3 separate regions of the Homo sapiens genome follow, and regions 1 and 3 are each linked to region 2. The links come from fine-mapping of genetic effects on gene expression. A gene starts in region 2. Each other region holds a variant in brackets. All regions are shown on one strand. Distances are from middle to middle.

The links. PIP is the estimated chance that this variant, and not a neighbour inherited with it, causes the effect.
Region 1: its variant is the best candidate, but not a certain one, in a credible set for the expression of SOX4 in blood mononuclear cells (TOPMed, PIP 0.56).
Region 3: its variant is the best candidate, but not a certain one, in a credible set for the expression of SOX4 in whole blood (INTERVAL, PIP 0.80).

The regions. Positions count from the first base shown.
Region 1 is chr6:22,363,341-22,367,581 of GRCh38, reverse strand. It overlaps a transcript of LOC105374971 not described here. Among named protein-coding and RNA genes, the nearest start is that of PRL, 68 kb to the right of the region's middle. The variant T/C (reference allele first, on the strand shown) is at 2,049.
Region 2 is chr6:21,591,830-21,596,070 of GRCh38, reverse strand. It overlaps SOX4 (SRY-box transcription factor 4), which reads right to left and starts at 2,320. Exons shown (of 1, transcript NM_003107.3): 1 at 1-2,320. The coding sequence starts at 1,536. The coding sequence ends at 112. RefSeq lists silencers at 570-619, 670-759, 1,530-1,709.
Region 3 is chr6:21,161,739-21,165,979 of GRCh38, reverse strand. The region is part of intron 13 of CDKAL1 (CDKAL1 threonylcarbamoyladenosine tRNA methylthiotransferase); the gene reads right to left. Among named protein-coding and RNA genes, the nearest start is that of LINC00581, 350 kb to the left of the region's middle. RefSeq lists cis regulatory regions at 2,066, 2,080, 2,292 and enhancers at 1,994-2,138, 2,008-2,152, 2,220-2,364. The variant T/C (reference allele first, on the strand shown) is at 2,134.

The DNA.
Region 1 (4,241 bases), 770 kb before region 2:
TCTTTGGTATTTTCCATTATAATAAAAGAGAGATTTCCAGGACTAAAGTTACTGGGTACTACAGACAGGAAGAAATTTTAGAAATGGTTATAAACTACCACCCACAAATTAAGCTTTTTTAGGGTTTGGAATTTTTAATTCCAAGACAATTTTTAAATAAATTGTCTTTGGATGAGGTCATGCCTGTGTGTTATTATATGTACTCCTAGTCATTAAAGACCAAAATGGAAATCCAGAGAGCACTGCACTAAAAACAAGCTTAATGCTGACAGCATTTATGACCTACATGCCTAATCCCATAGGTCTCCAGGCTCACAAGAAAACTGTTTCTCTTGAGATGCCCAAGTTGTCATTGCATGTCAGGGAAACTCAGGTATAAACAGGTACTTAAAAATAAGGGTAAGCTTTGCTGGCTACTTAAAGCAAATTGAGCTTTTGAAACTGATGAGGTGTACCCCGTTGAAATGTTGGCATCAGTCTGGAGCCCAATGCAAACAAGAAACAACAAGGGGAAAGACAATGGAGGAGGAATCAGGAGGAATCATAATAGAAAGGAATTGCCTGCTGGTTGCTAACATTTCCATATGGACACAAGCAGCAAAATTACAAAAGATCAAAGAGCAATCCAAAGAAGAAGGGAGTGTTCAGTCTCATAATTGTGCATGTGTGTGAACATACAGCCTTCTGTAAGAATAACAGCAGAAACATGTTTTTGCAAGTGAGGTCCAATGTATGCCAGCTAATGGGGGTGCCTGGCTGAACCTCAGTATGCAAAAATCTACTCTACATTTGTTAAAGATGCTACTGATTAATGGTATCTCAAATCTGTAATAACAGTTAACAGATGCACAAGGGGGAAATGTCCTCAATACAAATGCTGTAGGCTTCCAAACCTCATTGTAATTATTCCATTTGTGGTCAAGTGCTAGCAACCCATTTTACAGCTAAAGCCTAAGGCAAAATAATTTTGCCCACCATGACATTGAGGGAGAAGTTGAGGCGCAAAGGGACAACTCATTCTCCAACTCTTTACGTGTCAGCACTACATATGAAGTTTCTCTTGTGTCTGTTTTAAACTAGATACAAGAAACAATTTCACAAGAAATTGTGAAACTGTGTCTTTCACAAGAAGCAATTTCAATCTTTGCACCCAGAGAATAGCTTCTCTATGTAATTCTAATCTGATGAAATCACTGATTTTCCTGTGTTAAGAGGTTAGTGAGTTCTATTTCACAACAGATAGGCTCACTCCACATTTGGTAAACTCTGCCCCAACTGCGAAATTTTAAACAAATTTAATTCTTGGTAAATGTATTATTAACTACTATTAATACATAAGAAAATAATAACGTAATGAAAAAATGTTTAATAGTAACATAATGAACATAAAAATAATATTAGGAAATGCAGAAAAAAGCTTGGTATATCTCAAAATACATAACTGTTCAAGAGCGCATTGGCCCAAATCACCAGTTTTTTCATTCATTAATTTCTGTTATGGTTTGAATGTGTTTTCCACAGTTAATGTGTTGGAAAGTTAATCCCCAGTGCAACAGTGTTGAGAGGTAGGACCTTTAAGAGGTGATTATGTCATGAGGACTCTGGATGAATGGATTCTTATCAGAAGCTTGCTATAAAAGCTGAATTTGGCCTACTCTTGCTCTCTCTCACCATGTCATGCTTTCTGCCATTTTATGACACAGCAAGAAGGCCCTTACCAGATGCAACCCCTCATTCTTGGACTTACCAACCTCTAGAGCCAATCAATCGCTTTACTTTATAAATTACCTAGTCTTAGGTGTTCTGTTACAGCAACAGAAAATGGACTGAGACAATTTCCTTGGGAAAGTAAACAGAATGGGCTTTGAAGGAGTCTCTCACTGAATTTAGAAAACAAAATGACGAAGACACAACTTTCAACACTTCATTATATTACTAGGTTTAATGGTTGCAATTACATATGGCTTTATAGACTCAAAAGTGCTTTGCAACCTTTAATTAGTCCATCTTCCCAAGTCCACCTCCATTTTTGGATGACAGCACTGAGA[T/C]ATATTGGTTATGATTTGCCCTCCAGTAGCCAAGTAAGTCAGAAGCCCAGTTCAGAGTAAAACCAAGTCTCCAAAACAGAACCAATGCATGGGCACTGGGATTCTGGCTCACCTCTCATTCTACAGCATAGCTGGAATTTTGTTTAAAATGTGAAAGCATGCAAACAATGTTTTATCACCAGATATAGGGAGGTTTTGTTGTTATTAATCAACTTTTTATTGTATTTTCCCTTCGGATATAACTGCAAGTCAAATATAAGTAAATACTTTTTCCTCTTGCTCTATCTTCTAACTTCCAGTTCTCTTACCCACTTGCCCTCATTTGGAACACAATTTTCACTTTTAGAAAGATGTTTCCTTAGAGTTTGGAAAATTAATTTGATTAAGAGTGAGAGTCTGTAATCCCAGCACTTTGGGAGGCCAAGGCGGGTGGATCACGATGTCAGGAGTTCAAAAACAGCCTGGCCAAAATGGTGACACCCTGTCTCTACTATAAATACAAAAAATTATTACCTGGTGGCGGGTACCTGTAATCCTAGCTACTCGGGAGGCTGAGGCAGAGAATTGCTTGAACCCGGGAGGTGGAGGTTGCAGTGAGCCGAGATCATGCCACTGCACTCCAGCCTGGGTGACAGAGTGAGACTCCGTCTCAAAAAGAAAAAAAAGAGTGAGAGTCAGTGCGAACGTGTGTGTGTGTGTGTGTGTGTGTGCGCGTGTGTGTGTGTGTTAGGGCCAGTGCAGTTAAAAATACTATCACATTCAAGAATTCCAATGTAAGCAGTCTTATAAACCTTAAAAATGTCATTTAAATCACATATTTAATAGGAAGCTTTAAGAAAGAGACAGAGACTCATTGTGAGCTTTTTTCATGTGCCTGTCTCTGGCTCACCTTCCAGCTGCTTTGCAGGGGGATCAAGGTGGGTGAGCAACTCGCTCCAAGCCCTGAGGTGCTGTATCCCAGCTGCCAATATCTTCATAGGGTCACTGAGCAGGCATATAACTCATTCCATTTGTAACCATGAGAAATAGAGTCCCCCAGGGAAAATATGCACTTCCCGTATGTTCTGCCCTGTGCACTGGTCTAGGTGAATCACTATCCAGGAGGGAAAGGGGAAGGGATGTGTCTTGACACATTATTTCCTCACAGATATCAGAGCATCATTTCAAGGATAGTATACTGCCTTAAACAGACCACCTATCTGATCCAGCCATGGAGATGGGATGCTTTTAGGAGCTTTCCAGTAAATGCCTCTAAATTCTATTGCTAAGGCTTCCACAAAACTATCAAAAAAAGAAATGCTTTGATGTGTGTCCCCTCTAAGCACTGTGCCACAATTCATAACCTCCACACCCAGCCCCTTCCATCCTTTTCTCAGTCCCTTTTCTGTCCTCCCCTCCGCCCACCGTGGAGCTCGGCCATGCTGTATGCCTTCCTGCTCACATGAACTGCAGTTGCTGGAAAAATGAAGCCAAAAGAAACAGCCAATAAAAACAGAAACAGCTGTAACAATTTTGCACAGCATGGTCTTGATTTCCTTGAGTTTTTTACTTTTGCCTCTTTTTTTTTCCTCCTCTTTTTCTTCTCCCTTCAGCTCCCTTTTCCATACAACACCTTCTGTGTTGGGGCTTGGAATGGAGCAAGAAATACTTCCCTCTTCTGCAAACGCTTTGTGATTCAGAAACAATGTTGGAGTCCATTTTGAATCACTAGTTCCAAAACAAGCAGAACCCCAGAGAGGCATGGAGTGCAGGGAGGAGGAGGAACAGAAACAAGGGAAATGAGTTGAGAATCTTGCCACCAAAGACAGGTGCAAAGATTTACAAAAATAAGAATAACAGACCCAGCTCTCAAATTTGCTCCTTCTCAGGCTGCTATTGCCAGTGGCTGTGCCTGTTGTGAGTTGAGCTCACAGAAGCGGTTCTTTTTATTTCATGGAATGTTTGCACTCACCTCCCTAAATGGACCCTGTTCTGAAGCCTCTATTGAACTGTTGTTTACAGTAGCCTCACTTTACATCTATCTCCTCTTCCCCAAAAACCAAGGCATGACAAGGTAGCTTGTAAATGCAAAAGGCTACTGGAGGAGCAATGTTAGTAGTTTCAGAGAAGAAAAGGAGAAAGAATGACTCAAAGCACTGAACAAATATAAAAGGAAACACTAACAGCAGATTGCAATCAGTACTGTCTTTCCTG
Region 2 (4,241 bases):
CTTTTTTCCCTTTTCTCTTTAAACTCTTCGTCTGTCCTTTTCGTTTCTTTTTTTCACTTTTTTTTTCTCCTCTCCTACCCCCCCCGGCCCTTCTCCCTGCCTGCGCGCCCTTCAGTAGGTGAAAACCAGGTTGGAGATGCTGGACTCGAGCCAGTCTCCCGAGATCATCTCGCTCACCTCGGGCGTGCAGTAGTCCGGGAACTCGAAGTGCGAGCCGGAGCCGGGCTCGAAGTTAAAATCCAGGTCCCGGTCGAGCGCCGACGACGAACTGAAGCTGCCCAGGGACATGCTCTCAAAGTTTGAGCTGGGGTTCAGGTCGAGCAGGTCGTCTTCGAACTCGTCGTCGGAGGACGAGGAGCCCGAGGAGGAGGAAGAGGAGGAGTGGGACGAGGCCGAGGAGGACGCGTGCGAGGGCGCGCTGGACGGGGCGGGCGAGGCGGCGCGCAGGCTGGCGTAGCCGCGGTGGTCGGCGGGCGAGCGGCCGGCGGCGGGGGACGAGGCGGCGCTGCTGCGGCCGCTCAGGCTGGGCGCGTCGGGCGAGCAGCCCGCGCCCTCCTCCTCGTACAGGCCCAGGGGGTCGCTGGGGTCGGCTCCCGCGCCCACGCCGCCCACGGGCGACGACGACGTGCCCAGGCCGCCGAACAGGTAGACGCGCTTCACCTTCTTCTCCGCCAGGTGCTTGCCCGGGGCCGCGAGCGCTGCGGAGGCCGAGGCTGCCGAGGAGGCGGAGGCCGAGGCGCTGGGAGTCCGCGCCTTGTACAGCGAGTGGTGGTCGGCGGCGGCGCCCAGGGGCAGCAGGGCGGCGGCCCCCGCCTGTTCGGCGGCGAAGGAGGCGGCGGCGGCAGCCGCTGCTTTCCCGCCGCCGCCGCCGCCTGCCAGGATGAGCTTGGCGTGCGGTTTGCTAACCCCACCGCCCGCGCCGCCCGCCACTTTGGAGCCGCAGCTCTTTTTCTGCGCCGGTTTGGAGTTGGCGCCGCCGCCACTCGCACCGCCGCCTCCTCCCCCCGCGTTGCTGCTCCCGCCGCCGCCGCCGCCCCCATGGCCGCCCCCGCCACTGCCACCGACCTTGTCTCCCTTCTCCCCCGGCTTGGAGGAGGCGGCGGCCGAGGAGCTGGAGTTGGCGTTGCCGGACTTCACCTTCTTCCTGGGCCGGTACTTGTAGTCGGGGTAGTCAGCCATGTGCTTGAGGCGCAGCCGCTCCGCCTCTCGAATGAAAGGGATCTTGTCGCTGTCTTTGAGCAGCTTCCAGCGTTTGCCCAGCCGCTTGGAGATCTCGGCGTTGTGCATGTCGGGCGACTGCTCCATGATCTTGCGCCGCTCGATCTGCGACCACACCATGAAGGCGTTCATGGGTCGCTTGATGTGCCCACTCGGGGTCTTGCACCAGCTCGGGTCGTCGGCCTTGCCGCCCGTGGAGGCGGTGGAGCCGGGCGTGGGGGAGGAGGCGATTCCCAGCTCGAGGCCGGCGCCCGAGTCCGAGCTCTCGCCGGCCAGCAGCGCTTCCGTGTTCTCGGCATTGTTGGTTTGCTGCACCATGGCCTCGGCTCGGCGGGCGCCCACGCGCGCTCACACCCTCGCGGCGGCCGCCGCGCGATCGCCGGGCCCTCCCGGTTCCCCGGGCCAAGCACACGCCGAACGGGAAGACGCGCGCGGCGGCCGAACTGGCCCCTCAACTCCTCGCAGGGGCGGAGGTGGGTAAAGAGAGAAAAGTCCCCAAAAGATTTGGGGAAGGAGTTCTCCGCCTCTCGCAGAGGAGTTATAGTTCCCAGGCTGGAGAGTCTCTCTCTCCCTCTCTCTCGCTCTCTCACCGCGCTGCAGTTTGCTGTCTCTCGGCTGAGTCTGGAGACCGTGCTAAAGTAGAGAGGAGTTTCTCGAATGCTGGTTGCTGAAGCTTCCAATGCAAGTTTCTCGCGGCCTCCCAGGCAAGTCTTTTTTTTTTTTTTTTCTTTTTCCCTGAAGCAGTTGATTCCAGTTCACGAGCGCTCTCGGTAGCTCAGGAAAGCGACATAGTCTCTAGCACTTAGTCCCTCTCCTACAATGCAAAGCAAAAAAGACTGTGGCTCCAGGACTCTCTGTGGGCGGAATCGGCACTAAGGAGTTGGTGCAATTATTTTGTTGCAAGGTAGGAAGCCAAAAAGCCTGCATGCAACAGACTGGCATGAATAAATGTATGTTTCCCCCTCCCTTCTGCAAGAAGGGAGCTGGTAATGGCAGGAGTTCCTCCAGTGCAGACTCTTAAAGAGCGTGCAAGAACTAGAGACCCGACAGCGAAACAGGCCTCTTCCCCTCACACACAGTTTCTCTTGCTGCAGCTTAGAGCAGACCCCAATTCCGCCTCGCGCCTCTTTATCCTTTCACAGTCTTGGCTGCAGCCAATCAGCTGCTGTAACCAACGCTTCCTCATGCCAAACCCCTCCCCCGGGCTTCCCATTGGCTTGGAACCCGATGCAATAATAATCTCCGCGTGCAATGAGAAGCTCCAAATCTGACCTCATTCCAATTTACAGAGCAAACTTTTTAAAAGGGCTAGAAGTACAGCTGAGATTTCTGCTGCCTCTTTTTTCCTTTTGCTGTGTGTGTGCGCGCGCGTGTGTGTGCGCGCGTGCGTGTGTGTATAGTGTGTGAAGAGGATGTTAATGCATGAAATTATTAAGGGGAGAGACGGAAATGTATTCTAACCATTATGTTAGATAACAAGGGGCTTGGAACGGGGCGGGGTAAGGGTGAAATACTGTAAATGGAAGCTTTCTGCTTAAAAGCCAAGTGATTATTTTTATTAGTTCTTTTCAGCATTGGAATAAAGAATCAGCCTCTGGTGCAAAATCTGTTCCCCAGCTCTTTCTTAAAGCCAAAGCTGTAAAGGGGAAGAGAAAGCCACAAAACAATAAATCAATGGATATTGAAAACCATTAAGAAAGTGGTACCTAGACACCTGTCATCACAATTATTTTAACAACTCTAGGTACAGCACAGATGTTGATGTATTGTGTAAATCCCTTCAGAACCGTTTTTGTGCTGTTTGTGGAAGGCAGGGAAGAGGACTTTGCAATAATTGCTTACTCTCTTAACCAAGCAAGGGTCAACTATGGTTATTTAATGATTTAAACTCCCTGTAAATCCTGCATAGCCCAAACAGGGGAGCTTTCCCTTGAAACACATTAGGTAGTGCTCCGTAATTACCTCAATAGGCAGATTTCCAGAGTTTTGTATAGGATGTATAATGGCATGTAAAGGATGGAAATCGGTTTTACTTTCTAAATATTTGTTTTCCCTGTTTTCAAAATTAAAGATTGCTTCACTCTCTTCCCTCTCCTCCTCCCAAAGCCATCTTCCTCCTTTCCTTCTTATATATTTCCTCTTGTTACTTGAATCGAAGGGAACTGAAAAACCAAGGCAAAGAGAAACTGTAGAAGGAGGTGATAACTGGTAGCAGAAGAGAATGGGGCCTCCGGATTCATAGTAGACCTGGCTGCTAATCCTTCTTAATGGTTTGTAACTATGGGGATGTGGCCAAGTCTCAGTTTTCCTCATCTATTATATGGGAACACTAGGAGCTACTTTATAGAGGGTTGTTGTGAGGGTTCAATGAATTTGTGACTATGAAGCACCTGATGTATTGTAAGCCCTCAATGAATACTAATATCTTCCTTTCTAATTCAAATGCCAGACACACTCCTAGTAAAAGCTGCATGTTGTTCAAGAGGCTAAAACAGAATAGCCACTTATGTAAAAAAGTAATAACAGGCAGGACGCGGTGGCTCACGCCTGTAATCCCAGCACTTTGGGAGGCTAAGGTGGGTGGATCACTTCAGGTCAGGAGTTCGAGACCAGCCTGGTCAACATGGTGAAACCCTGTCTCTACTAAAAATTAAAAAATTAAAAAATTAGCTGGGCAGGGATGCATGCGCCTGTAATTCCAGCTACTCGAGAAGCTAAGGCGGGAGAATTGCTTGAACCCAGGAGGTTGCAGTGAGCTAAGATTGAGCCACTGCACTCCAGTGTGGGTGATAGCGTGTGACTATCTCAAAAAAAAAAAAAAAGTAATCACAGATCATTGATGTGAACCATAGAAGGACAATAGTGGCAACCCTGCCATTCCATTGATTTTAAAAGAAAGGAACTCCATGAAGAATACTAAGAAGAATGTGGCAAAGAAAGGATGCCAAGGTATTCAAAATAAACGTTGGCTACAGAAATTACTTGTTTTCCAGTGTCTGAAAATTAGAATTGTAGTAAAAATC
Region 3 (4,241 bases), 430 kb after region 2:
TCACACAGGTAGTCAGTGGAAGAGCCAGGATGTGAATCCAGGCAGTCTACTTCCAGAATCACCTCCTAATCACAGAACTAGGCTTTAAGTTCAAGTGTTGCTTCCTCTGGGAAACTTCCCCTGAGTTGACTCCTGCCCACAGGTGCGTAAAGCTCTCTCTCTTTTAAGTCAGCACGCTCATAGGATGCCATGCACTGTGCTGTCATCGCAGAGTACAGACTCTCCTAGTAGCCTCCTTGACTCAGGCAGTAAGAAGTGTCCTACTCATCCTCTGTCCTCAGCAGCTACCACATGACATGGTCAGTGCTAAAGAAATGCCTTTGGTTGAATGAAATGGAAAATACTATGAAAATGAGAACTATACGTCAACACAGTAATTTACTAATGTTGTTTCTTCTACGAGCTCTCAAATCAGAGCATTTAACTTCAATATTTCCTTCTCTGTAAAGCAAAATGAAGGAGATGGATAATTATAAAGATTTTTAATAATTATCCCAAATGTAAAAACTCCCAAAAGTAAAAAGAAGCTATGAACATATTTGCTATATCCTTTTAGAACTGTTCGGAGTAAATAAAAAGAATCCATTAGCTATCAGCTATTTTTCTGACTCTTTATATTTTGACCTTAGAATTCACAATAACAATATTATTTTTACTCTACAACACAACAAATCCAGCACCATATTTTAGGAGAGTTGGGCCGTAAAGAAGAAGCTGATGGCAGGAGTGGAGTAATCAGTCAGAAATTCTTAGAACAGCATAGTCATTTTAATAACAACAAAATGGTCCTTCTTCTCCTGAAACAGAAAGTGGAAGGAAAGGGCTAAGGAAGTGGATGTGAAGAGGTCATCTTTGTTGCTGTCAAAGCTGTGGTCAATTACTTTGCCACAAGGCTTTGGCCAGGAAGGAAGTTTATTCCTTTGAAGAGACACCTGGGGAAGGAGGAAAGAAAGGGTTTTTGCTTTCACATTGATTAACCACATCTTAGCTGTCTATTCGTTCATTTCAGTTTAAAGAGAAATCTTCCCAGTGTGTGCTATGCCATGAAGATGAATTAGATTCCTCTGGTGGAGCTTTACAGCCTAGTGATGGCAAAGACATTTTTTTAAAAAGATTCTTTCCAATATTATGTATACATGCTGTTGATGAAGAGGCAAGCTACAGTGGTGGCTTAAAGGCTGGCACAAAGCTGGTCAAGTCAAGCTTCAAGGATGATGAATACAGTGAATCCAGTTTATAAAGGCGGGAAGCCTGTTTCAAGCAGAAAGTAGTCAGGGAAGATGAGGGGGCATTCTGACCTCATCTTTGATGCTGAGAATTTTTGAGTCTGTGTTTATGAATATAAGCTTCTAAGTTTACACTTGACCATCATGGATGGATTTTACCTGGCTAGCAATATTAGGCATAAATGGCATCAAGCCAATTTAGTTCCAGGACAGGGAATGCTGGGAGACAATGATGGATAGTGGTAAAGGGCCAGCCCCGGTCTGTGTGTGTTATGGTTGAAGCACCTGGACTTGCTTTTGTAGGTTACAGTGGCTGCTATAGGGTATGAGGCATGGCAGTGAGGTTAAATCTGGGTTCTGGCTAGATCCTAGGTCCCAGTTTTCTGGGTTCTGGCTAAATCTAGGTCCCAGTTTTTGAGATTCTAAATGCTAGTAAAATGAGTGGAAATTTTTTAAAAAACCCAGCTTGTTTATAAGGTTGTGTACTTTTCATTCTACAAGCAGGTACATAATTTTTTAAAATTTCAAATCTATGATCACAATAAATCATTTCAAAATAGGAAGTGATTTTAAATCTTTTAAATCATCAATTTAAGCTGTAAGTTGTACTGTCTTTGTTTTTCTTATCTCTTCTGCAGTTTGGTGAAAATGTCATCCTGGACCAGCATTTAGTAGACCAACAATTAGGAGCAGTGGAATAGGTCATTCTGGAGCTAGGTAGAGGGGCAATGCTAGGGACAGGGAGCCTAATTAATAACTAAAATAGACACATTATTTCTTTTTCTTTTCTTTTTTTGTTTTTGAGATAGAGTTTCGCTCCTCTTGCCCAGGCTGGAGTGTAATGGTGTGATGTTGGCTTACTGCAGCCTCCGTCTCCCAGGTTCAAGGGATTCTCCTGCCTCAGCCT[T/C]CCAAGTAGCTGAGATTACAGGATGCACCACCATGCCTGGCTGATTTTGGTATTTTTAGTAGAGATGGGGTTTGCCATGTTGGCCAGGCTGGTCTCAAACTCCTGACCTCAGGTGATCCACCCGTCTCTCGGCCTCCTGAAGTGCTGGGATTACAGGCATGAGCCACCGCGCCCGGCCAGATAACAGCATTATTTCAAGACTACAAAGTTTAAGATTATGACTCAACACCACATGCCTTTTTCTGATTTTCATCTGACAAACGCCTGTGGTTTAGAGGCCTCCACAGTAAGGATTTTGGATGATTGGTTAAAGAACTTTTGAGGGAGAGGGAACATGACTAGGATGAAAAAGAAACAGATGAGGAAAGTGAAAAAGATGGTGACTTGAAATCAAGACACTAAAGGCTACTGTATTCCCAAACCACGGTGGGTTCTGCCGGTGGCCCCAAGCGGGTGTTTGTTTTGGGTTACTGTGAAGATTAAGAGGTCAGGATCCAGTCTAAAGCAGCTAATGATGTATGTGAGGCCTCTGCATCACTGAGAGAATGAAGTGGAGGAGGTTATAAAACCGACCCCAGGAAGGTGGCTCATGAACGAGAACTCAGGAACAACCACCACATCTGCAGTAATCTCAAGAGAAGTGACTTTTGCACAAGGCAAGGTTGTGCTGGCAGTGAGGAGGAGGCAAAACGGGCATTTGCTAGCGTTATACATCAGGCTTAAATTTAAAGGCAGATTTTGTGTGCTAGGGAGTTGATTCCTAATATTGTTCTGTCCCAGTTGGCCTCACTGTGATTACCATAGAAGGGTTCAGCTGTGGCATTAGTTAAGCTATTCAAGCCAGGCCCTCTCTCTCTTCCTCCCTCCCCCTTTCCCTCTTGTCCTTTCCTTCCTTTCTTTCTTCCATCAAGATGAGTTCTTGCTGTGTTGCCCAGGCTGGAGTGCAGTGGCTATACATAGGTGTGATCATTGCACACTACAGCCTCAAACTCCTGGGCTCAAGTGATCCTCCCACCTCAGCCTCCTGAGCAGCTGGGACTACAGACACATGCCACCACACCCAACTAATTAAGAAAACCTTTTTTTTAGAGACAAGGTCTTGCTATGTTGCCCAGGCTGGTCTCAAACCCCTGGGCTCCAGCGATTCTCCCACCTCAGCCTCCTGAGTAGCTAGGATTACAGGCGTCAGCTACTGTGCCCAGCAGGCCAGACTTTTTCTAGGTCCTTCAAAGCTAACAAGCATCAAGGAAGTTACATATGTGATGCTGAGACTGATTGAGTCAGGTGGCTTTTGTTTTTACTTTCAATTCTAGAGCAAAGTTTCAGTTAACTGGAATTCTGCTAACTCAAATCTCAAGGCCAGAGCTGGTTCTGGGCAAAACCATGGAATGGGCCTCAGAGTTCAATGCCCCATTTACCTGTTTTCCATCAGAGGTTCAGCTTTCAGTTCTAGGTTTCTTAAATTTTAAAGTATTGCTTTTGTTGGGGAACATTTCCATGACCCCAAATAGATTATTTTATGGGGAATTAGGAGTTAACAAGGAGAGAAGATGTTTAATCAGAAGATGGCTGTTCAATGTTACAAACTATTCCAAAATTCATCCTGCAGAGACCTGGAATGGTCCCAGTGATTTCTTGAGTCAATAGTGAAATTAAAAACCTTACTTCTAAGACTTAAATTGGCTTGGCAAATTAGAATTCACTCACATTTCTGGAGTTTGAAATAATCTCTTCCCTCTCTACCAGGACATATCTCAACCTCAAACCTCTACTTCCTGCAACTAACACAGTTTCAAGAAAATATCGGCATAAATTAAGTCATGTAAGCAGCGTCTGTATTACTTATTAAAAGCCTCCCGCTAGGCACAATAGGCACTTGCATTCAAGTGCTGAATTAATGAAAAAGGCATTTTGAATTTTCCATTGAAACGTGCCTTTCCTTTGCACCACAGTTTAACTTCTTTCTAAATGCAGCTTTTAGTAGAAAATGACAACAATTATGAGCCCTTTGAGATTTAAAATCTGAAACTCAAATTATCAAGCCTTAATAAAAGCCTAATAAATTCCTTTATGTGTTATATTATGTCTGCTTAATTACTCCAAGCCCA